2 separate regions of the Homo sapiens genome follow, and region 2 is linked to region 1. The links come from fine-mapping of genetic effects on gene expression. Tissue or cell type: lung. Region 1 holds a variant in brackets; the other region holds the start of a gene. All regions are shown on one strand. Distances are from middle to middle.

Region 1 (12,538 bases):
AGCCTGTTCGTGTAAGAAAATGAACTAAGTAATCTGTAAAATGGGACTCATAACAGGGTATTTGAGAAGATGAAATAACATAATGCATGGAAAGCTTTTAACAAGTCACCTACTGAATATTCAAAAAATGATTTTAATTATTCTATATTAAACAAATAGACAAAAATGGGAAGTAATATGATTAACTTGCTCAAAGTGCATTAAAGCAATAATATGCATATTGCTGTGGCTCCCATGAGAATGTGCATCTCGGACCCCTGACTGCTGAGAGTGTAACTAACCAATGCCTCTAGCTGCTAAGCTCTGGAACTCATTGCCTCAGTTGCTTTAGGACCACAGTTTCTCCTTGGCTCTCAGCCAATGTCTGGGTGTGGCAGTGACACCAAGGCAGGTGTGTTGCTGGGAAACCCAGAAGTCCTTTGTGAGTAGAGATTTTTGGCTTGAGACCTCCCAGATGGCTATGTTGATCTTTTCTTAAAACCGCAGGGCTGCAGGACCCATTTAAAATGATTCCACCAAAATTAACTTCCTTCCTTGCTTCCTTCCTTCTTTCCTTTATTCCTTCCTTTCCTGTTTTTCTTTTTTAACCAAGGTCAGACCAAGCCTTTCCCAGCTCCCACCCCTTTTCTCTCTCTGGCAGTTCCCTTAATAAATTTCTTACATGTTTAATCTGGTACAGCTATTTGCTTCTTGGATGACATGGATGAACACAACTGCGAAAGAAAAATGTTAGCACACTAAGAAAATAAGGTCTAGAACCAAAGAGGGAAAAAAAGGAAAGTTAATAAACAAATAATTAATTTAGAAAAATTGACCTCTATAATTTGATTAGACCAACAAAACTGCCTGGGTGCTAATTCTAGACCTTTTTTTTCACCACATAGAGTTTCAAGATAAGAGTTTCTTTATATAGAGTTTACACTCATAGTTCACATACCCTTCCTTCCCTAACAGAAGCCAGGCTATGTCTGGAAAGTGTACTTAGAATGGGAAAATCCAGTTGTCCTGAGACCACACGGATGAACATCCATGGAAATTTACCTGTTCCATGCCTATGTTCTCACTCACTTCCACTAGTCTTTTGTCTAGAGTGAAGTTATCTCTGAAAGAGTATCTGAGAAAATATAGCAAGTTTTCCAAGTTCCAGGAAATCCGAGTAGGTGAAGATACGCTTCACCTCACTGTATATAATGCAACATTGAATGGACTGACACTTATTCTGGCCCAAAGCATAGTTGATCTAATATTTGAATAAGACTATAAAGGATAAGCTCATCTTCCTTTCTTCCATTGCTTTATCTTCTATTTCAGCTTCCATTGAGATGATCAAGAATATGCTAAGTTAGTACTCTATTGCCTAAAAGAAAATTAGTTCCCAGGAAGACAGTTTAATTTTCAAATGCTTTCACTGGATTCAATATAAGAACCAGAAAGAAATATTGATGCTTTTTCAAAGCCTCTTTTGGAGACCTTGTTCATTATATTAATAATCCTTTACATAAAGATCTAGATGCTAAAATCATCTGTAATTCAGTACCTGATACCTCCCGGATGGCTAGGTTGATCACTCCTTAAAACTGCAGGGTCCATCTAAAATGCTCCCATTCAAATTTCCTTCCTTCATTCCTCCCTCCCTCCCTCCTTCCCTCCCTCCCTTCCTTCCTTCCTTCCCTTTCCTTCATTTCTTCCTTCCCTCTTTTTATTCTTCAACCAAGTTCAAACCAAGCCTTTCCCAGCTACCTCCCCTTTTCTCTCCCTGGCAGAAATGTTTTATACCTCCTTTCATCTAAAAATGGGACTAAGACTTTATTCTGCCATTGCCTTGATGGCCAGGAAACTCAGTGTGAAGGTCAATGCTTAAGAATGATGTTTCCACTTTCCTAGTAATTCTTTTTCTCTTTTCCCTGTATAATTTTTTATTTGTAAAACTTTATTAGTAGTACTTATATTGTTTGTGAGTTTATTTTAGGTAAGCTTAAATAGTTGGATTTTTTAGAGGGGATGGAAATAAGTAGGCTATAAAATTTTAAATAAATTATACATGTACGTATATATCAATGTTTACTATGCCCAAACCATGATTAAAAATCACTGATGAAGTTTTAGAAATAAACAGGCCAGGTGGTGTGGCTCAAGAATGTAATCTCAGGATTTTAAGAGGCTGAGGCGGGTAGATCACTTGAGCCTAGGAATTTGAGGCAGCAGTGAAGTATGATTGTGTCACTGCACTCCAGCCAGGGCAACAAAGCAAGACCCTCATCTCTAAAAAAAAGAACAAAAAAAGAAAGAATACTGAAGGGAGTTGTGAAAAATTTAATAGTTTCAATTCAAGCAAGCATGCGAATTTACATCTCATGCTTTTTATTTAAAGGAATGGATCTTTTTGTTTAACCTGTGTCAGGTAGCAGCACTGGAACACGAAGCTGATTGGTTACAGATCTGGTTCTGTAGTATCATGAGAGCCAGCTAGCTCTTCCCTCGGTATCTCCATTCATAAAGTATGAGGGTTGGACTAGGAAGACCTAAGGGATCATTTTTAGCTCTGGAATTGTATGATTTCTTCTGAATTTAAACTTATTCTATTTCAATATTTAAACATCTAATTATCATAGGAGAACACATTCAAGAATGACATTAAGAGGTGACTATGCAAGAGGAAGTTTCCTAACTCTTTTCTCTTTACAAAGACATGCTGAGGACATGGACTGTAATGAAGCATTTCCTTTCAAATTAGATTTGAATGTTACATCAGATAATGAAGCTTTTGAAGTTCTAAGAACTCAAAATTCCATTCAGTGGTCTGACGTCATGAAAATGGATCCTTAACCAGTCAAAAGAGCTAATTCATTTTGGGAGAAAAAATGAAACAAAAGCATCTACAATTTCTTAGTCATTATAGTAGCTCTGTGAAACTATTATATAACCAGCTTAAAAACATACTGTTTTGGTATATATTGTGCAAAAAAGATTCTAAGCTTGACAACAACAAAGAATAGACTCAGTAACTATTTAGAAATACAGCAATTTGCTTTGTTTCAAGCATAGCTGTTACCAATTACTTCATTCTAGCAGTCATGATAGAGCAATACCATCTGAAGGACCTTGGCATTAACTTTGTTGTGAAATATCAGATAGTCTTTGCATGCTGCAACAGGTTGAGTATTTATTTACCTGTAGCATTAATTTGATCTCCAAACAAAATTATATGATATGGGCAGATTACATAGCAATAGAAATGTGTTTATTTAAGTCCAACTAACATAGTTAGCTAGCTAGCTGTGCCATGTAGGCTAACCTACACAAACATGACGTAAGATACATACTTTAATTTCAGCTGCCTGAGAAATGAAACTTTTCTTCTCAGTGCCTAGAAGAGTAGGCACACAAATGTGAAAGCACATAGTAGATGCTTAGCAAACATCTGGTAAATAAACATGCTTTTATGTTATCTTGATAAGCTTAGTGTCTAAAGTGGGAGTTATTAGCATTCACCAAAATGGATGAATTTTATTTCTCCATAAGACATGGAATTTATGATAGAATGTGTGTATAACTCTATATGTATACTTAGATGCCACTGATATTTGTTATATTTCTGGTGTTTTGTTTAGCTGTTTATGGTGGTTGCTCTTGTTTTCTTCAAAAATATTGAAATAGAATTGTCTACTTGTGAGAAGTCCTTTCAGCCTGATCTTATGAAGTGCTATAAGCTATATTTTACCTCAGTATTGAGGCTCTCCAAAAAATGTATCTTTCAAAACCTCAAAGGAAACTGTATCTTGTGTAGTTAATGCAATCAGCCACAGCATAAAAGACTTTTCTGAAGACTTGTAAGGGATCCAAACTTCCAATCTCAAGATTCGGCTGAAAGGGGCTAGAAGTAATTATCTGATAATATATACTACTATGTTTTCTCCTTTTTGTATCCAAGAAAGTCATTTGAGAGTAAACATAGGGGAAAAGTTGCATTAGCAAGTAATATACAGCAGAGGTAAAAATCCCAGGAACACCTAGAGAAGGAGCAGGCAGGAGTAAAACTGTTTCTTTCATGGCTTACACATTGTAGGCCAGAAAAAAAAAAAAAAAAACAAAAAAAAAAACACTGTACATTTTCATTCAAACTCACATCCACAAAGTCTTCTCTGGATCAACCAAATTAAACTAAATCCACCAGCATGAGAAATTCAAGGACTGAGCAGAAGAATGTCTCGTCATTAATAATAAATTGGTATATAACCCAGAAGACCCTTCTTTCTTTCTTTTAAGTTCAAGATATGGCTGCTTCCGAATTCTTGTCCCCATGGAAACAAGATGTGCTTGGTATAACAAGATGACAGAGGGAAACAGCTTCACAGCTGTGGCTACATCACTGGGGCTGGTTTCACTGTGAAGTTCTTCTGACTGCTACACTATTGGTTCATCTGTGATTCCCCCGTTCTTTCCACAAATCGAGGTCTATGCAACAGTTTGAAGTTGCATTTGAGGATGTCTCAAGTTTTTGATATTTGACATCTGTTGGTTGTGTTTCTCTCTATTGCTTTCTTGTCTATTTCATGCATTCTTTAAAAATCTTGTTTAATACATTGCTAATTTGCTCTTTTGAATGTACATTTTTAGTTTTCTTTGATCTTTATCAAACGCAAGTTTAGTCACTCCAGCTAGATGTTTAAGATCCACAGAGAGAAAAACTATTTAAGCCACCTCCAAGATTAGAACAATGCTTAGTATACAATAAACACAATCTATATTGGCTGATGGACAAATGACTCACTTTAGGGCTCTTATTCTCTGTAATATGTAGTTATACAGGTCAGCAGTCCTCATTTTTAGCCAGCAGAGATTTGGTAATACATTTGGTTCCCTACAGTGGATGACTGTTGATGATCTTGACTTGCTGTTTGCGCTATTCATGGCTCACAGGTGATGTTAATTAAAGTCGTCCCTAAATGGGCTGTAACATCAATTACTGGCCCAAATCTCACAGCTAAACTGCAGGTTGGGCATCACCACTATCACTTGGAAACAGTTAACATTGTATGGAGGCTGACACTCTACACACATAGCTACATGGCGATGTGCAAACTTTCTCAAGAATTCACTTGTCTATTCTATTTTGCTTCTTTGTTTGTGTATCTCAGAAAAGGGCATTGCCACAGCTGCTGGATTACGTAATGGTTCAAAATAACAGTCTTCAAGGTCATTCAAACACATGGCTATCTCTTTGGACCAGAATAAGAATTCCAACTTTCATTAAAAAGTCATCATAACACCCTGATTTACTCATAA[A/G]TAGTCCTCGTATGAATTACCTCTTCTCAAAAAGCATACTGAAGATATTTTCTTGCGTTTGTTGTTGTTGTTTGTTTAATTTATGGCATGTCCCATGCTATCTTTGAAGTACTCCACTTTCTGGGTCCTTAAGAATGTTGAGATTATTCTCCAGGTATTAAGTTTAGATCTTATTGCTGAAATGAGACCAAGTGAAGTACAGTAAAATATTTGAAAGTCTGTTTTTTAAAAAAAAATCTAGAGTTTTTTAATAAGACTATTTTGAATATGTTAACAATCCATATCTTAAAATCTTACAGCTTATTTCATAAAATACAATCCAAGGGCTCCTTGTACTTCCAGATATTGAATTAGTAATCATCAGTTTTTTAGAAATTACTCCTTTTTACTATTCTAAGCTATCTTTAACATTTTGAAAATTTAATGAATGAAATTGTGATTTTTAAAAGAACCCAAACAGAGGCACCAGTTTCTCTCATGAGTGAATATATTATTACTCTTGTACATTTGAAATAAGAGAAGTCCTCTAGTACTGAACATTCTGGCATATATTTCCTAGTACCATCGGTCCTTCTTAGGACATAATTGAGACACTGAGGAATTAAGTCCCTCAAGACACAAGGAAGCCACTTCCCACCAGAGGTTCTGACTTTATTGTACTATCCTGTATAATCACATGAATTCATATGGCACCATTACTGAAGTATAATGAGATCATTAACTCCTAAGCACCCAGTTTATTCTAGACTTTCAAAAATACAGACTGATTTAAGATTAAGAAGCAATTGCAACTATGTATTTGCAACAAAAGCAGTTATGAGAAGAGAGATGGGGAAAACAAATTGTATTATACTATTTAAGCTCGAATTTCCTTACTCTCACCCCCACCTGGACAAAATGGCTCTTATAACATCCACTGTCTATTAAAGTTTTTGCTTTTAAAACAAAATTAATATTCCTAAGAAACACAAATATAAAAGGTGATGTCTTTTTTTTTCCATTTCAAATATGGATCTGATTTTAAGACCTTATTTTCAAATGGCTCTCTCAGTGCTTTTGTAGGTAAGAGCCAAGAATTAAGAACAACCCTCATCTTGTGTGTTAGATAATACCACAGAGAGTTTCTCTATCCTCAGCTTTAACTCCTGTCTACTGACTAGACCTATTTAAGTTACCTAACCTGTTTAATGAGCTCCAAAAATAAATGTATATTATAGAGAAAACCAAAGGACACCCACTATTTACAGAGAAATGACACGGAGAGGGCATTTCTTCAATATGTGACCTAAATAACCCAAATCAGATTTAATTCAATATGGGAATCTGGGATTACATCGGAGCTGTTATCTGGGTCTGCCAGTAACTGCAATAACATCTTTAAACAGTAGCACAATCTTGGATAGACTCTGTCTAACAAAAATGACTTCTCCACTAGGATAGAAATTAATTCACCATTGCTCTCATTTTTATCACAAGGAGGTAAAATAAATTTTTAAAAATCAAATGCAGCTTCCTTGGAATGTTACAGCTAATTCTGAATTAAGAAATGAACTAGTTAGTAGTTATGTATTTCTGACAATGCTGAAAACAACATGCTTCTAATGATATCATTTCACATACAGACCTAACACATAGGCTGAGATGCACCTGGAAAGGCATCCCATAGAAGCTTCAGATTTTATTATTACAGGTTCATTCTTTAAAAATTCAAATAGGGCCTGGCACGGTGGCTCTTGGCATTTTGGGATGCCGAGGTGGGTGGATAATTTGAGTCCAGGAGTTTGAGACTGGCCTGGCCAACATGGCGAAACCCCCTTTTTACTAAAATTACAAAATTAGCCATGGGTGGTGTTGTGTCCCTGTAGTCCCAGCTACTCTGGTGGCTGAGGCATGAGAATCGCTTGAACCCCAGAAGAAGAGGTTGCAGTGAGCCAAGATTGTGCCACTGCACTCCAACCTGGGTGACACAGCGAGACTGTGTCAAAAAAAAAAATCAAATAATGCTGCTGAGGAGAATCAACACCTGCCAAGACTCTAATGCAAGTGGGTTTATTTGGGTGATTTTTGACAGATGACACAAGGCAGCAAGAGATAAAGGGTAACTTGGAAGATACGCTGAAAGGGGTAGATGGATGGGAAACATGGCCAGAAAGGAGATGTCGGTGATAATTTCATAATAAACATGCTAGCCTAGGGCCGGCCATGGCTGTTCCTCCCACCTATTGCCACTTGCTGAGGTTCTAGAATGTCCCTGAACCTGGTGATAAGAACAGTGATGAGGGGAAGTAAAGTAAAAAAGAAGATTGATAACATTTTCTCTTCTGATATTGGACATGGTTAATGCCTATAGTGGATATAAATAATGTAAGATAGTTGATAGCATAAGGTCAAATGTGTCAAGATAGCAACAGTCTAAGAGGGGAAATAGTTATACTCCTAAATAGCTTAATGTTGTCCATTTATAATATATATATATTCATTTTTCTGAGAAACAAATATTCTTGGAGGCTCATTGTATACAATGTCATCCTTTTAGTAATGATGAACACTATGGGGTCCTGAGGTATTCTCAGCTCATAGAAATTTAGCTGGAAGAGCTCAAATATTTCTAAAAAGCAACAAATTAGGCATTCTTTTGCATCATTTCCCTACTTCAAGATAGAGTTTTCTTGATGTTGAGGGTTGAGTTTATGCTGAATAATTTGATTCTTGCAAATTTATTTTTACAGTGCGAGGGATATTTCTGCTGACAATTCAACATTCAAAGGGATGAGTGTATGACGTCTCTAAGAGATGTCATGGAGTGCATGTAGAAGGGACTTTTTATGGAGGTAAGATGTAGAATAGGACAGTCATGTTTAATTGATGAATTTTGTTATGATTGTCCAGAAGTAAAACAGAGAACCTGGAAGTGATTTGGGAGGAATATGTTAGTGTCAACACATATGAGACCTTTTCTTTGTCTTCTTTTTAAAAAACTCTTTTTCATTCATGTGTTTCCTCTTTGTCTTTTTCAGAACTACTTCTCAAATCACTATTCACATCCTGGTAGAAGTCAAGCAATGAAGATGGCACAGAAACACATCCCAAATACTATGATACCATAAAGTATACTGTAGCAATGCATTGGCACACCCTCATTTGAACATTTGTCTCAGAAGATTTTGACAGAAGATAAAATTGTCTGGTTTTTATTTCATTGGTTTCATGAAAATTTATTTCACTGGTTTCATGTCACAGGCCCATGACTGTATAAAGAGTCATAATCTTTACAAACACAACAATGACTCACAGCGACATGTTGCAAAGCTGTAATCGAAAACACTGATGTTGATTTCAGAGGCCATTAATGGTGTTAAGAAGGCGCTTTTGTTAACCAAATAATTGAATACTCGTAATTACTTTTCAGTTCTAGTTCAGTTCTTGACACCAAAACAAGCCATTTTCTTTACATAGTGAATGCAGAACTTGCCAGTAAGAACTTTCATACTAAACTTCTATGTAAAACAAAACATGTCAAAATCAGTAACTACTTTAATGGAATGGTAAAGAATTTACTTAAACACAAAGGAATGAAAATATCTCTGCAAATATGTCTATTGACTTTTCAAATTTGGTGACTTCTTTCGAATTAATTCCCTTACGTCTGTTCCTCATCCACATAAAAATGACAAAAATGAAAGATAATTTTCCAGCCTATAATTAAATTTCTCCATTGTTGGTATATGTTTTTTCAAATACATTTTTCAGTTTTCATAATTCATATGAGAATTATTAAAAGGGAGTTAGTTGCCTTTAGGACCTTATTTGGAGCCTAATTCTTAAAAATTGTGTAAAAATAATTGTGACTTTTAAGAGACAATTGGAAATTTGAACCTGACCACATTTTTGTGATATTAAGGAATTTTATTAATTATTTTCTAGGTGGGGGAATGATATGATGATATTCTTAAAATAATGTGTGGATTGTTTATTACATTTCAACATTTTCTTAATCATCAAACATTTGTTGACCTTCTGCTGTATCTAGAGCTCTGTGATCGGGATGAAGTATGAGATATTAAGCCATTACCAGGTGGTAGTTACTCTACCTCTGTTTGAAGTTCATGCCCAGCCCATTTGTTGCTTTAAATTTGAGTTCATTCTTGAGCATGTGCCACCAAATTCCAAGCATTTTCAAATGGTGAATTACTTCTTACAAACTCAACGGAGTGTATGTTAGCCGATCTGAAGTAACCCACTTGAAGTGATGCGCTGTGTCAACCTTAATATCACCATCAAATGATCCCTAGGGAATGCAACATTTGGCTTATTTCATTTTTAACATGTGAATTTAGTTTATATCAAAGTAATATAATACACATAGTTTAAAAAAATCATATAGTATGACAACAACTTGAAAGAAAAGCAACAGATCCTTGCAGGTTGCTCTTCTTCCTCCCCAAGTACCTGAGCATCTGTCATTGTCCTCCAGCATAAGGCCGTCAGGAGCACACCTATAATTGAATAAGCAGGACTCACTACCCATTTCAGTGAGGGAAAACTCACACCACAGAGAATCCTGGGGTGTCTCAGGTGAAGGATGTTAAAAGGGACTTATAACAGGATTTGGGCTTTGGTTGGGTGACTCGACGGAAGTTTCCCGCTCTGAATTGGATGCTCTCTAAAAGTGGTTATAATCTGTGATTGGGTATCTCGATAAGTCTTATCCTTAGAGAGGGCAGACTAGAGTAATGCTAAAGATGCAATTGTTAAGAAGCAGTCCTCATTCGTATTAGCTGAGAGAGGGGAATGTTTCGTATTTTGTGGCTTGAACAATGCTCATGTGTTTAGACATGATTGTAGAGTGATTTTCAATTTGTTTTGATCCATCATAGTGCTGATGTCATGTTAATTTTTTTTTTAATGTTCAACAGAATACTAACACCTAGCTGTGAGTACCAGGACAGCTGGTAGCAACCCCAAGGCTTTGCTGGTAGTGCCAGGCTAGCTCCTGGAAGTCAGAAGTTGCTTTGTTCTTTCCCATGTCTTTTCCCAGAGGCAATCACATTAAACCTTTTAGAAGTTTCTTCTGGCACTTACCTCCAGATTCCTAATAGTTTTTCTTTGTTTTTAAATGTTTGATTTATTTTTAAATATTTGACTTCCTGCTATAGAAATAAGACTTTTTGCTCTCTTGTATCCACCCTGCTATACACATTTGCTATGTACATACCTCCTATACTCGTCCTAATAATACACATGTATCAGAATTTTTATTTTATTTTTATTTATTTTTTTTTTGAGACAGAGTCTCACTCTGTCGCCCAGGCTGGATGGAGTGCAGTGGCGCGACCTCGGCTCACTGCAATCTCTGCCTCCTGGGTTCACACCATTCTCCTGCCTCAGCCTCCCAAGTAGCTGGGACTACAGGTGCTCACCACCACACCCGGCTAAGTTTTTGTGTTTTTAGTAGAGGCAGGGTTTCACCGTGTTAGCCAGGACGGTCTCGATCTCCTGACCTCGTGATCCGCCCGCCTCAGCCTCCCAAAGTGCTGGGATTACAGGCGTGAGCCACCGCGCCCAGCCCACAATTTTTATTTTAAAGTAATTATAAACGTCTTTATTACCGTGGCTGTATAAATATTATTCATAACAGAACTATGCAATACACTATAATTATATATCCTTTTCTTTACAATTTAGTTTTTCCCAGTTTTAATAATTGTCTTTTGTTTCTGTTGCTAAATTATCAACAATTCTTTTCCTCAATTCTCTAATAGAATTGTAAAACTTCTCTTAAAATGTTTAAAACATCAGCTAATTCATGAGTTCCATTTTTTCTGCTTGCAGACAGACTTCTGAAACACTCAGGTGACTGCTGCAGTCTGGAATGGGGGCTTTCTAGGGCCACAGCATTGCTGTCACCCTGGGACTTCATCTAAAGCATTTGATTTAGCTCTCTCTCTTTTGCTGGATTTTCCATTTCCTGACTCGTATGTCTGCGTTTTTCTTGTGTCATTCTGTTTCTTGTGATAGAGTTCATCTGTGAGTAGCTTCCCAAAAATGGGTACACAGGAGATAAGTAGTTTGACATTTGCATACTCGAAATGCCCTTTCTTTCTCGGCACACCTGAATGATGCTTTGGCATTTGGCATTTGGCAACAGAATCCTGGATTGGAAAGAGGCTTCCCTCAGAATATTGAAATCACAACTCATTATTTGCTAGGTCTTAGTGTTGCTGTTGAGAAGTTCAATGCCTTTTGATTTAAATGTGACAGTTTTTTCCCTCTTTGGAGGCTACTGGAATGTTGATCCTTGGTGTGAATTTGATATGACTGGTTATGATTATTTTTTGTATATACTGTTCTGGGCTCTTTCTGTCTAGAATATCATATACTTTAATTCTGAGAAATATTTCGATATTATTTCTTTGATAATTTCATTCATTCTACTTTCTCTTTCCAGAACTCATATTAGTGGGACCACTTGGATTTAACCTTTAATTTTCTTAACCTCCATTTTACCCCTATTGTCCATCTCTTTGTCTTTTTGTTTGATGTTTTTGGGAATTTACTCAACCGCTTTTTCTTTCCCATATTAAGAAAATTCTATTATCATAATTTAATTTCTGTGAGTCCTTTCTCATTGCCAGAATGCTCCCCTTTTAAAGAAAATATTTTCGGCCTGGCTTGGTGGCTCACGCCTGTAATCCCAGCACTTTGGGAGGCCGAGGCAGGCTGATCACGAGGTCAGGAGTTCAAGACCATCCTGGCTAACACAGTGAAACCCCGTCTCTACTAAAAATACAAAAAATTAGCCGGGCGTGGTGGCAGGCGCCTGTAGTCCCAGCTACTCAGGAGGCTGAGGCAGGAGAATGGCATGAACCTGGGAGACGGAGGTTGCAGTGAGCTGAGATTGCAACACTGCTCTCCAGCCTGGGCAACAGAGTGAGACTCTGTCTCAAAAAAAAAAAAAGAAAATATTTTCTTGTCTTGTGAGTGCATTATTTCTTCTTATCCTAGACTCTGAACATGCTAATTATAGATTGATTTGATATTTTCCTCTTCCCTGTGTTTGTTCTCTTGTTTTTTTTCCCAAGTTCTTTATTTTTGTTTGTTTACTTTAGTCTCTAGCTTTATATTAGAGGCTTTTTCAAATGCCTGACCTCGTTGGTTGTTATTCCACTTAAAGTGAGGCATGAAGAGCCTAGTTTGGAAGCTTTATATGATGCAGAGCTTCACTGTGGATGATCTGGCGGGGGCAGACCAG
Region 2 (12,538 bases), 26 kb before region 1:
CCTGGAAGCCTACATTCATTTACATTTAATTGCCTGAGAGTTGAGAGCCAATGACAAATTAAGGGAGAACATCTTTGTAATTGCTATATAAAGCAATGGTAATGTAGAATTTAGTCTATTAAAATTTATTTTGCATCTATCACTGCAGAAAGACAGCTAACACAGGACTATAGTACAATTGATATAATGCAACAATATGAAGCCAAAATCAAATAATCAAATATGACCAAAATAAGTATTCACTGCCCACATGAAGTCAATGGTTATGGTAAAAAACAAAAACAAAAACAAAAACAAATGTGCTTGACGAGAAAATAAAGTGTTAAGGCCAGGCATGGTGGCTCACGCCTGTAATCCCCATACACTTTGGGAGGCCAAGGTGGGTGGATCACCTGAGGTCAGGAGTTTGAGACCAGCCTGGCCAACATGGTGAAATCCCGTCTCTACTAAAAACACAAAAATTAGCAGGGCATGGTGGCACACACCTGTAATCCCAGCTACTTAGGAGGTTGAGACATGAGAATCGCTTGAACCCAGTGGGCGGAGGTTGCAGTGAGCCAATATCACGCCACTACAGGGACAGAGAAAGATGCTGTCTCAAAAAAAAAAAGAAGAGAAAGTATTAACACAAAAAAGATACCTGACTATGATCTTAAAGGTTTAACTTCAAATGTGGTGCAAAAGTAGATAAGGAGTGGAAGCAACCCAGATATCTATGAATGGATGAATGGATGAATGGATAAATAAAGTGTGGTATATACACAAAATGAAATACTAAGCAGCCTTAAAAAGGAATAAATACTGTCACATGCTACAATACAGATGAACCTTGAAGGTCATTATGCTAAGTGAAAAAACAGTCATAAAACAGACAAATACATGATTCCACTTACATAAGGTATCTACCGTAGTCAAATTCATAGAAAGTAGAACCATGATTACCAGAGAGGAGAAGAGAGGTAAGGAGTTGTTTAACAAGCATAGAGTTTCAGTTCTACCAACTGGAAATGGTCTGGAGATCTGTTTCACAGCATTGTAAATATACTTAGCGTTACTGAACTATACACTTTAAAATGATAAGACGGTAAATTTTATAGTATGTGTTATTTTTACCCAGTAAAAAAGGAGATCAGAAAACAGACTAGAAGATTTGGGCCAGTCTCTCAGCTCTTATTCAAATGGAACTCCCTGTACATACCTGGACTTTTTTTCTCTCCTTTGGGAGCCAATTCAAGTCTTACAAGTATGGTAACACCACATTCGTGAGGCTTCCCTGCCTATCCCATCCCTCCTCAATCCCTTATTAGTTCCACCCAGGCAGTAGTATAGATAGCACAATGCCCGAATTCCAGTCCAGGCTTCCCCACTTTTTAACTATGTAACTTAAGTTATTTAACTTCCCTGAAGCTTGTTTTTCTCATTTATAAAATGAGGGTAATATACCCTATATCGTATAGTATTTCTATTAGAATTAAACAAGTAAAAATTTAAGATATATAAGAATACCTGACATGAGTTACAACTGCACCATAAACGTTGGCTAATATTAATTCACCCATTGTATACAATATTGCCTTTAATCATATTCATACCACTATATTGCACTTGGTTTGAATGGAATTCTTCGGTCTGCATAGTAGTATTACATTCCTTTAAATTATCACTGTAAATCATTCTTCTAATAAACCCACAATGCACCTAACACAGCAGTTAACATAGTTTTATTAATGTAGTAACGTATACATGTAGTTAGAGTTGTAAGAATGATGATAATTTCACCTGAAGACTTAACACCTGGGACACAAAGCACAGTGATTTACCAGGGATTCCAGCTCTGCCATGTGCTACCTGTGTGGCCTTGGGAGAATTCCTCTCTTTTCCTGAGCCTCACTGTTGTCATTTGTAAGCAGGGAAAATAATAGTGCCTACCTCACGGGGATATTTTGAGGATGAAATGAGCGCATATGCATTAAAATCTTAGAACAGTGCCTGGTAAGCAACAAGCATTTAATTAGTGTCTTCTGGATGGAGAATAATGGAAATTTTAGCTGAAAATAGGTAGGCTCTGGGCAAAATCATTTCATAGCTTTGATCAAGGAGTAAGGATTGTCTAAGCTATGTTTTGATTATTTTACTTATAGCACAATCTGAAAAACACAATAAAAAAACCTAAAACTTAAAAACAATTTCCATCCAGTGAAGGCCACAAGTACAAATTCCTTTACTTAGTATAAGAACATATTAGTAGCATAGGAGGTACCTAGGTTTAGGTGTTCTGGATAATATCGCAATAGTTAAATGCTTGATAATCTCCTTAGCTTCTGTAAGTCTTTTCCTTTCAAGCTGTCCATCCAGATTTTAAGTTAATTCACTAAGATTTGAGAATTTTTAAAAATTCTAATGTAGAGAGATCCCTAAGGTAAAGCCATAATTCTTGGGATATCAGAGAATAATTTATTCTTCTAGAGTTTCTACAAAAGCAGAATTTTAAAACTTTTGTATAAGTGTATATACTCCACCATTTCTCTGAATGTAAGTCATATTTTTAGACAAACAACCAGATGTTTCAGAATAGCCTACTGTGTTTCCTCTCTTTGCATTTATAAATAGTACTCTGACCTCTTTTCCAACTGAGTTTGAGGGTTTATTCCTATTGGTTTAGCAATTGTCAAAGTTTCTTTTTCTTATAAAAAGAGGGCATTTCAGAAAACGTCTCCTACCTTACTGGACCATTTTTTAACATGTATTCATTCAATATATATTAAGCAACACTACTCGCTCCAAGATAAGAGAGGGAGATATTTGGTGTTCAAGATAACAGCCTCTACTGTCTCATTTGACAACAGTGCTAAGGGCTACAAAGAAAGTGAAGATACAGTCTTCCCTCCAAGAGTTTACAATCTAAAAGGGTAGATGAGACATGACTATAAGAAAAGGTAAATGGCACGTATATGAACAATCAGTTCATTATTACTCAGTAAGTGCCAATAAACAATACCAAAGACACCACAAAAAAACAACTTTTTGCAAAGAATTTGATATATTCCAAAAAAAACACTTAAATTGTAATGGTGAGAAAAATCCAATTTTATGACCCTAATTTCCACATGGTTTTATATTTTAGTATTGTTTTAAATACATGGAGAAGTGGCCCCATCATCCTTCATGAGTTCTCAGGAACTCTAAAAAATCTCAAATCTGCCACCTAAACCACTGCTTCAACCCAAATCAGGCCTCCTTTGTTTTCTCTGCAGCATGGGTAAATAAGTAAGCTTGTGCTGAACAGAAACTGAAACAAAATTTCACAGGACAACTTTCTAACTAGAAAAGATCACGTGAGGAGAATACCATTAAGTACTGCTTCATTTAAAGAAGAAACAAGTGAGCAAAATGGTTTAACTACCATTATATATTTAATCTGGCCAATACTTACAAGTAATAACTAAAATGATAAATTACAAGGTCCAGAACTTTGCAGAAAAGATTAAGACAGCGTCTCATAGCCTCTAATCTCACATCCACCATATGTGGTCAAAGCTAAGACATATTTCCCAGATTATTAAGAAGTTCTCTACCTAATTAATATTTCACCAAGAATTCCCAAAACTCTTACAATGTAGCATGTGCAAAGATTGTATCCAAGAAATGTATCAATAAATAAATGAGGACAGGTGGAAATGTATGCTAAAAGAAAACTATTAAAGCAATGACTATTATTTATACTTAGCATTTTTATAGTCACTTTCACCAAACTTTCTCACAGTTGCAGGGAGGTGGGTTAGAAAGTAACAAAACGAAACAACAACAACAACAAAAAACTTCTCATATATCATGAAGTCTATAACCCAGAATTCTACGTAGACTTTAAAACTTCATAGTTTCAATGCGTTAAAGTTCTTAAGAAAACTGTAATTCATTATAATCTGAGTTCTATACTTCTCCACAGTATCCAAGAATAGTTGGATCTGATATTATTGCATATCCATGAGCCTTACACTGCAAGGAGCTTGCAGTGATATTAGAAAAACAAGAATTTGTTTTTAAACGTACCATCAGCTTCTCCTTTTACAGACAAGCCACATAAAATCTGACAGGTTTACAGACGAAGGAAAAAATACAAACACAAGCACACACCCATATAAATACGTTTTAACAAGCTCTCTCACTTACCCTCTAGGTACATTTTAATTCAAATAAATCTTTGAGTACTGACAAATCTATATAAAACCCTCTTCGTGTTAGGAACCACCTTAAATGTGTATGTGTTAAATATGTTTAGAAAGAAGCCAGGAAGATATTTGCACTTAACCCTAGCCTAGTTCCATGACCCACTTTTTTTTCTTCTTTAAACGTTGTTGGACAAAAAATGTCATGAGTATTTTCTCTCAATATTTCTCCTGTAAGTGTATGGAAGTCATAAATAAGAGTTAAAAAAAAAAGAGTTTAAAGGTATTTCTCTTTTTTTCCTTAAAAAAAGTTAGCTTGCTTTTTATCTTCCAATTACTTACGGGCAAAGTTCCATGGGCCTGTGGGGGTGTAGAGTGCTTAAGTGCAGATAAATCAATACTGAGCTTGTAAGTACAATACTATTATGAGTAATAACAATGACATCCTATTAAATGTACTTTTAAAAATAGCTTATTTTCAATACACTTCTTGATTTTTTTTAAACCGAAGGCTGTATTCTACTGAACAGCCTACTTCAAGGACAAGCTTGCAAAAAAAAAAAAAAAAAAAAAAAGAATTTGCTATCAGGATACCTACTTACAACACCCTAAGATGTCATTATTCCACACAAATTAGCTTATTTTCTTGTGTTTTCCTCTAATTATCAAAGGCTATATAATCCACGAACCCTTTCCCCAAATCAAAATAACTCCAGATCACCTCAAGGTAGGAGGTGTTTAAGAAAACAAGCCAGAATTAGATAAAGTAAAACTTACTTTATTAAATAGGATGGACACCACTTCTCCCAAGAGAACTGTCTCCAAAAGTAAACAAGAAAGATCAATCTGGTAAACTCACATCATACAGGTTCCCGTGTAAGGTATCGGGTTCAGGCAGGTGGAAGCCAAATGATCGTAATTAAAGTTAATTAACAGGCCAGTCGTCTTAACGTGGTTAACAAGCAGGGTGCGGGGCAGCACAGACACCCGGGCAAATTCATGATCTCTACCGAGTAAATAACTTGGTGCCTGAAACTCACTACAGCTTCTTCTTATTTAAAGGTAGGGGAGAGGAATGGAGGGAGTGTCCAGCTGTCTATCCGGATCCTCACCCTCCCGGGTCAAATCCCAGAAGTGGAGTTCTTGGATCACTTACCGGCTTCTGGTTTCCTTTCAGACGCCCACACGCGGGAGCGAAATCCAAGGGGCGGACACCAGAGCCGAGCACTTTGCGCTGAGGAAATTTACCCGGTGAAGTGTCGAAAAGCCCCAGCCCCTCCAGACAGGGTCCTCCCACCCCCGCGTGGGCCATCCCGGCCCAGCCTTCCCGAGGCCCCGGGTACTCGCCTTGCGCTCGGGTCGCGGAGTTCGAAAAGCGAGGTGAGGCGGCGCTGGGAAGCTCAGCGCCGGCGTCTCTCCCAGCCTTGGGCGCTCGGTCCTCGCCCCTCTGCCGGAGGCGCCAGGCCTCCTCTTTCCCGGTCCCCGCCGGCTGTCCGCAGTCGCCTCTGCTGCCTGGCGGCGGCCGCGCGGGCGGCGCTGTTAGTGGGGCCGGCGTGTCGCGGCCGCCGCACCTGGAGGCGGGGAGCGCGGGCCGCGGACCCGCGCTCAGCTCCGGAAACGCCGAGCCCGGCGCCCGCGCCTTGCTCAGGTGCTCCCGCGCCTCGCCTCGGCCGCCGCTTCCTCTCCGCCCGCGGGGGCGGGGAGCAGGCGCCCCGCGCGGGGGAAGCCGGAGCTCAACGGCGGGGGCGGCCCAGCCGGCCTCCCTGGTTCCGCAGCATAGTTGGGTGACTGACTCAGACCGCCGCGACTTGGCCGCGCCTGGCACCCTCGCCACCTGGCGCACCTCGGCCCGGAGGCGTCAGACCCCGCTGGGGAAGCTGCGGGGGCGCGCCCTGGAGCCCAGAGCGACAGGGGCATTACCCACCTTCCCGGGACGGAGATGCCCAGGACCTTGTGTTGGCTCCTCCTGGCCAGTGGGTTTGTCTGTGCGCACTCATGGGGGGTTGAATGTCAAATGGGCGGAACCTCGCCACGACTGATTATTAGTATTACTCTTCCAAGTACTTAAAGTGTTAGCTCAGCGTTTCCCAAACTGAAGACTCATCTAGGGCACTATTTTCCCCAGGCTGCTTCTATGTAAATTTGCTCCTTCTTGCACCTGTGGCGGTTAGATCCCAGAGGGGCATTTCCCCTTTGAGTTGGACTCTGACAAAGGAGGCAGCGAAGGAAAATAGGGGATCCCAAAGAACCCTTGTGGACCTCCAAATATCTAAGCGTCCGTAAAATCCAGTTATTTGCAAGTGAGTTCACAGACCAACTACTTTTTTTTTTTTTTTTTAGACAGGGTCTCACTTTGTCACCCAGGCTGGAGTGTAGTGAGGCAATCTCAGCTCATTGCGCCTCCGCCTCTGGGTCCAAGCTATCCTCCCACGTCAGCCTCCCAGGTAGCTGGGATTACAGGCGCGCACCATCAGCCAAGGTAATTTTTTTTGTATTTTTGGTATAGACGGAGTTTCGCCTTGTTGCCCAGGCTGGTCTCAAACTCCTGACCTCAAGTGATCCACCTGCCTCGGCCTCCCAAAGTGCTGGGATTACAGGCGTGAGACACTGCCCCCTACCAGCTTTTTTTTTTTTTTTTATAAACATCTCCCACAGACTACCTGAAATTCTCTTCATTAAAAGGTGAAATGTATTTATCTTTCCCCTGTTCCTGTTGATGGAAGTGAAGCAATTAAGGAAAGCGCAGACCTTATGAAAATGAGATAATTGGTGAAGTGCGGAAAGAGAGAGGCTTCCCACAAGCCTGGGCCCTTAGGATTCTTCAGTCATCACCTTCACCCACACTAACTACCTGCCCAAAGCACCGTCTTTCCCTGGGGAGACTCTGAAGCAGCTCTGTCTTACTAGAGACACCAAATATCCAGTTCCTTTTGAACTTAATACCTCATAGCCGACCTCATTTCCACCAGGAAAGTTTTATTGACATTTTCCAAACCACGGGAACTTTTTCTCTGGATTCCTATAGCATTTATAGGAGGAATTTTATTTATGTGGCTCTTTTCTGGCTTCATTCTCTGTGTGTGTGTGTTTCTTTTGTTCTTTTTCCCTTTTCCCTCTCCAAATTCTCACATACTTCTCTCTTTTTTTTTATCTCTCTCTTTTTTGTTTTTGTTTTTGTTTTCGACTGAGCCCCGCTGTATCGCCCAGGCTGGAGCGTGGAGAGCAGTGGCGCGATCTCAGCTCACTGCAGCCTCCGCCTCCTGGGTTCAAGCCATTCTCCCGCCTCAGCCTCCTGAGTAGCTGGGATTACAGGCATGCACCACCACGCCTAGCTAATTTTCGTGTTTTTAGTAGAGGCAGGGTTTCACCATGTTGGCCAGGGTGGTCTGAAACTCATGGCCTCAAGTGATTCGCCTGCGTTGGCCTCCAGAAGTGCTGAGATTACAGGCGTGAGCCACCATGCCTGGCTCTATTTTTATCATTGTAAGCCATCTTCGGTCCTTCTCTAAACAAGGTGGGTTATAAATAAAAATTATTAGATCAGTTATCTTATGTGTGGGAGGTTCAATCATTGCTTTGTCCTCAAGTTACTTCGCTTGGTAGATTTTATAAACTAATTGAGAAATTGTCTCTCTCCCTCTTCGCAAAAATATCTTAGTTCTTTGATTATTATTCAGTCATTTATTCTTTAAAAATTATTAATCACTGTTTGGCATTTTGAAAATACAGTGTTTAGCAAATACAATGCAATCTCTGGATTTATGTTTTCTGAGGGGAAATAAAGGTAAATGCTACAAGGTACAACAATGACTTCATAATAGCCCTGGGAAATAAAGAAGAACAATGCTCACTTATTGAATGTATACATTAGTTATAAGATGTATTCTGGTTTAATGAATCTTAATATATGGAGGAAAATAAAAATGTCTGAGGAAATACGGCAAAAGCTATCTTTTATTAATTGATCGATAGTCACCAGACTCTAGTCAAATACCTAACATATATGCTGTGTATACACAACGTGTGTGAGTTAAAATTCTTTTTTCAATTTTATAAATATAGGTTTAATTGAAACTTAAAGAGGTTAAGTAGTAAATAGTGAATACATTGAATACATTTAGGCTATATTCTTAGGGTATAAATTTTTTATTTTGCAACCTTCACAGTGAGGTATTCAGAGAGCAAAGTACACAGGGAAATTGGCTTTACAAGGATTAAGGTATGGGCCAGGCACAGTGGCTCAGGCCTGTAATCTCAGCACTTTGGGAGGCAGAGGCGGGCAGATAACCTGAGGTCTGGAGTTCGAGACCAGCCTGGCCAACATGGCGAAACCCCATCTCTACTAAAAATACAAAAAAATTAGCTGGACATGGTGGTGCATGCCTGTAATCCCAGCTACTCAGGAGGCTGAGGCAGGAGAATCGCTTGAACCTGGGAGGTGGAGGTTGCAGTGAGCCGAGATTGCACCATTGCACTCCAGACTCCAGCCTGGACAATGAGACTGAAACTCCATCCCCTCCCCTCCAAAAAAAAAAAAAAAAAAGGTAAGAAAATATGTTTAATCTCAAGACCATTGGAACATATATTCCCAGTAATTTTCATCTAGGCTGAAATGATTCCACAATGACGAGCTCCTGCACATTTTTCCCAGATTTTTAGTAAAAAAGCAGGTAAAGATGTGTCTGTGCCTATCTATGTATTTACTATTGTGATCTCTTGTTGCTTTACTTGTCGAGGAGACAATTTGAGAGAGTGAAAATCTTCCTCCTCTCCTCCTCCTCCTCACTCTCTCCTCTCTCCCTCCTTTTCCTCCTTCTACTTTTTCTTACAACATGATGGCTAATACCCATTGAGCACTGTGTGCCAATTGCTGTTCCAGGCATTTTAATTACAAGAGCTCATTTAAGTATCTCAGCAGTTCCTTGGAGAGATGTTATCTCCTTTATAAGAAAACTTAAGAGACAGAAAAATTGAATGCTTTACACAAATCAAACAATTAGGACTGTACGGGAGGGAGAATTCCAACCCAGTCTTCTCCAGGATCTATTCTGCACTGTATTGTGTCTTGAAGAAAGTAGAAGGCTTGGAAAAGGCTGCATTCAAGATGGAACCAGTATAGGTTGCGGCATTTTTTTAAGCAAATTCATTAACTTACCTGAGCCTCAGTTTCCCCATATGTAAACTGAGAATAATAATACCTATGAGAATTTAATATGATTATATATCTACAGCACCTAAAAAAATAGTAACCCCTCAATGCATTTACTTTTAGTTTATCTTCTCAAATTATTCTTCAAGATTTGATTCAAATCCTACCTCCTTCTCAAGACTTTCAAAATCTCTGATACTCGGAAATATGTACACAACAGGATTTAAAATAATCTTTCCTTTTTTTTTTTCTAAAAGAAAATCCAGTATTGCTTTTGCCAAATATGAAAATTAGGTATATAGATAAAATAAGCAAATGTCTACTTATTTAATTCATCAATTTAGATGAATATCTATAGAAGTAAAATTATATTTTAAACTATACTGTTATTTCCACTTATATTTTATGAAATATTTAATTCACATTTTCAAATTTTAACATTCAACGACTTCATCACTATGGGCTGATTTTTTTCTTTTTTCCTTTTTTTTTTTTTTTGAGACATAGTCTCATCACTCTGTCACCCAGGCTGGAATGTAGTAGTGCAATCTCGGCTCTCTGCAACCTTCACCTCCTGGATTCAAGTGATTCTCCTGCCTCAGCCTCCTGAGTAGCTGGGATTACAGGTATGCACTGCCATGCCTGGCTAATTTTGTATTTTTAGTAGAGACGGGGTTTCTCCATGTTGACCAAGCTGGTCTCAAACCCCTGGCCTCAAGTGATTCGCCCACCTGGACCTCCCAAAGTGCTGGATTACAGGCATGAGCCACCGAACCTGGCCACTACAGGCATATTTCTGATATATATTTTTTGTTGCTTTTCTGTATACCATCTCAGCCCTATCCTTCAGCCCTGCTCCCAGGGATCCACTCCCCAGTAAAGAGTTCACATATAGGTTTTTGCCTCAGGCTGTATTTTCTGGGGGAGCTTTGGCTAAGACGTTTTTCATCACATCCTCTTATATTTATTTGTTCAGTAGCTTATTCTCTGCTTTAGATACAAGCTTTCTTTTTGGCCTGGAAAAAGGTAAATTCTTTTTTAAAGTTTTAATTGACAAAAATGTATATATTTATAATGGACAACATGTTTTGAATATGTTTACATTGTAGAATGGCTAAAACTAGATAGTTAACATATGCTCTACCTTGCATTCTTTTTTTTTTTTTTGTGGTAAGAACACTTAAAATCTACTTTCTCAGGGATTTTTAAGAATACAGTACATTGTTATTAACTTTAATCGCCATATTGTGTGCTAGATCTCTTGAACTTATTTCTTCTATCTAACCAAAATTTTGTATCCTTTCGCCAGTATCACCCCAACTCCCCCCTTTCCCAGCCCGCTAAGTACCATTCCACTCTCCTATAAATTCAGCTTTTTTAGATTACATGTGTAAGTGAGATAACACAATATTTGTCTTTCTCTGCCTTGTTTATTTCACTTAACATAATTCCCACTAGGTTCATTTACATTGTCACAAATGATATGATTTTCCTCTTTTTTAAGGCTGAATAGTATTCTGTTGTGTATACATGCCACATGTTTTTTAATCCATTGATTCACTGATAGTCACAAGTTGATTCCATATCTTAGATATTGTGACCCGTGCTGCAGTAAACATGGGAGTGCAGATACCTCTTCAACCTCAGGAGTTTAGTAGTTTGCCATTCAGATTAATGTACAATAATGGGAGGAAATATAGAAATAATAAATAAATTATGACACATATATTTTTGTACCAGGCATTGTGACACATTATTAGCTTTGTAAATTCTCTCAGCAGGGCTAGGAGGTAAGTAATATCAGTATCTCCCTTTTAGCCAATGATGAAACTGAAAGGTTATCCAAGAACTCACGAGTAGTAAATAAGGTAATCAGGCATTGAGATAATGTGAATTCAAAGTACATGCATTAAGTATTATGCTGTGATGCCTCAGAGAAAGCTTTTTAACATTTTGATAATAAGGACCTTTTGTTCTGAGACACTATTTATTTGGGGGAAATGATGTACCTTATATTTAGGAATTTATAATACTCTCTCCTGATTCTCCTACTGCCCTTTTTTTAAAAAATCTCTATTGAGTACTCTTGTCAGTCAGTCTTGCATTATGCATACTTGGAATACTTTATTTATTTATTTATTTATTTTTATTATTTTATTTTATTTTATTTTATTTTATTTTTTGAGACAGAGTTTCGCTCTTGTCGTCCAGGCTAGAGTATAATGGTGTGATCTCAGCTCACTGCAACCTCTGCCCCCCGGGTTCAAGTGATTCTCCTGCCTCAGCCTCCCCAGTAGTTGGGATTACAGGTGCCTGCCACCACGCCCAGCCAATTTTTGTATTTTTAGTAGAGATAGGGTTTCACCATGTAAGCCAGGCTGGTCTCAAACTCCTGACCTCAAGTGATTCTCCTGCCTCGACCTCCCAAAGTGTTAGGATTACAGGCGTGAGCCACTGTGCCCAGCCTGGAATATTTTTATTACTATTTGTATTCCCTGAAGTACCCAACCTAGAGCTTTAGGTAAATGTTTGTTTTTATCAAGTTTGAAATGTTTATATTCATTATGTTGACTGCTTTCAGTTCCTTGTTACAAGCTATGAGTTACTTTGAAAGTTTTATTCATTCTTTCTTGAGGCAAGAGAGCAGTTCAGTGAGATGGCACTGCAGGTTACCCTAGACAAAGGAGCAGTGAAAACTATTCAGTCAATTCAATCATTGACCAAAAATTGATGGTATTGTGGAAATAATTTATTTTTAAATATAAGGTTTTAAAAAATCATTTTAAAGTTTAAAGAAAAGTAAAAAGTTTTCCTATAAAATTAATATTTCAGAAACTCATTTAAGCACTATAGATGAGAGTGTTTCATTAATACTAATATGCATATTTTTACACTTCTTCTGAAAGAGGAATTCATCTTAAAATGAATTACTGTTGGCCAGGTGGCAGTCACAACATAATTGTCACTGCCTACACGCTCCTGAACTTGATCAAAAATGTTTTATATTGTCATCACTTCATTTGAGTTACTTGCATCAACAGTGCTGCATATGTTGAGTTCGTGACTCAAAACATCTTCAAAAAATTGCACTGGGTTTCCGCAGAAAGATAAGGAAACAGAGCAGTGTGATTTTGTGTGATATTTGATAAAAATCTATGTCTAAAAAATCTCAAAGAACGTTTTTGTAGATATACAGTGTATAAAAATTCTAAGTAATTATTTA

Evidence for each region. PIP is the estimated chance that this variant, and not a neighbour inherited with it, causes the effect.
Region 2: ARAP2 starts here. The variant in region 1 is fine-mapped to the expression of ARAP2 in lung (TOPMed, PIP above 0.99).

What each region holds. Positions count from the first base shown.
Region 1 is chr4:36,264,932-36,277,469 of GRCh38, forward strand. It overlaps LOC439933 (a long non-coding RNA gene), which reads left to right. Exons shown (of 5, transcript NR_122079.1): 4 at 8,016-8,117; 5 at 8,304-9,284. Among named protein-coding and RNA genes, the nearest start is that of DTHD1, 10 kb to the right of the region's middle. The variant A/G (reference allele first, on the strand shown) is at 5,287.
Region 2 is chr4:36,238,666-36,251,203 of GRCh38, forward strand. ARAP2 (ArfGAP with RhoGAP domain, ankyrin repeat and PH domain 2) reads right to left here and starts at 5,849. Exons shown (of 33, transcript NM_015230.4): 1 at 5,514-5,849. LOC439933 (a long non-coding RNA gene) reads left to right here and starts at 5,451. Exons shown (of 5, transcript NR_122079.1): 1 at 5,451-5,546; 2 at 6,507-6,645; 3 at 9,817-9,941. RefSeq lists a silencer at 5,645-6,224.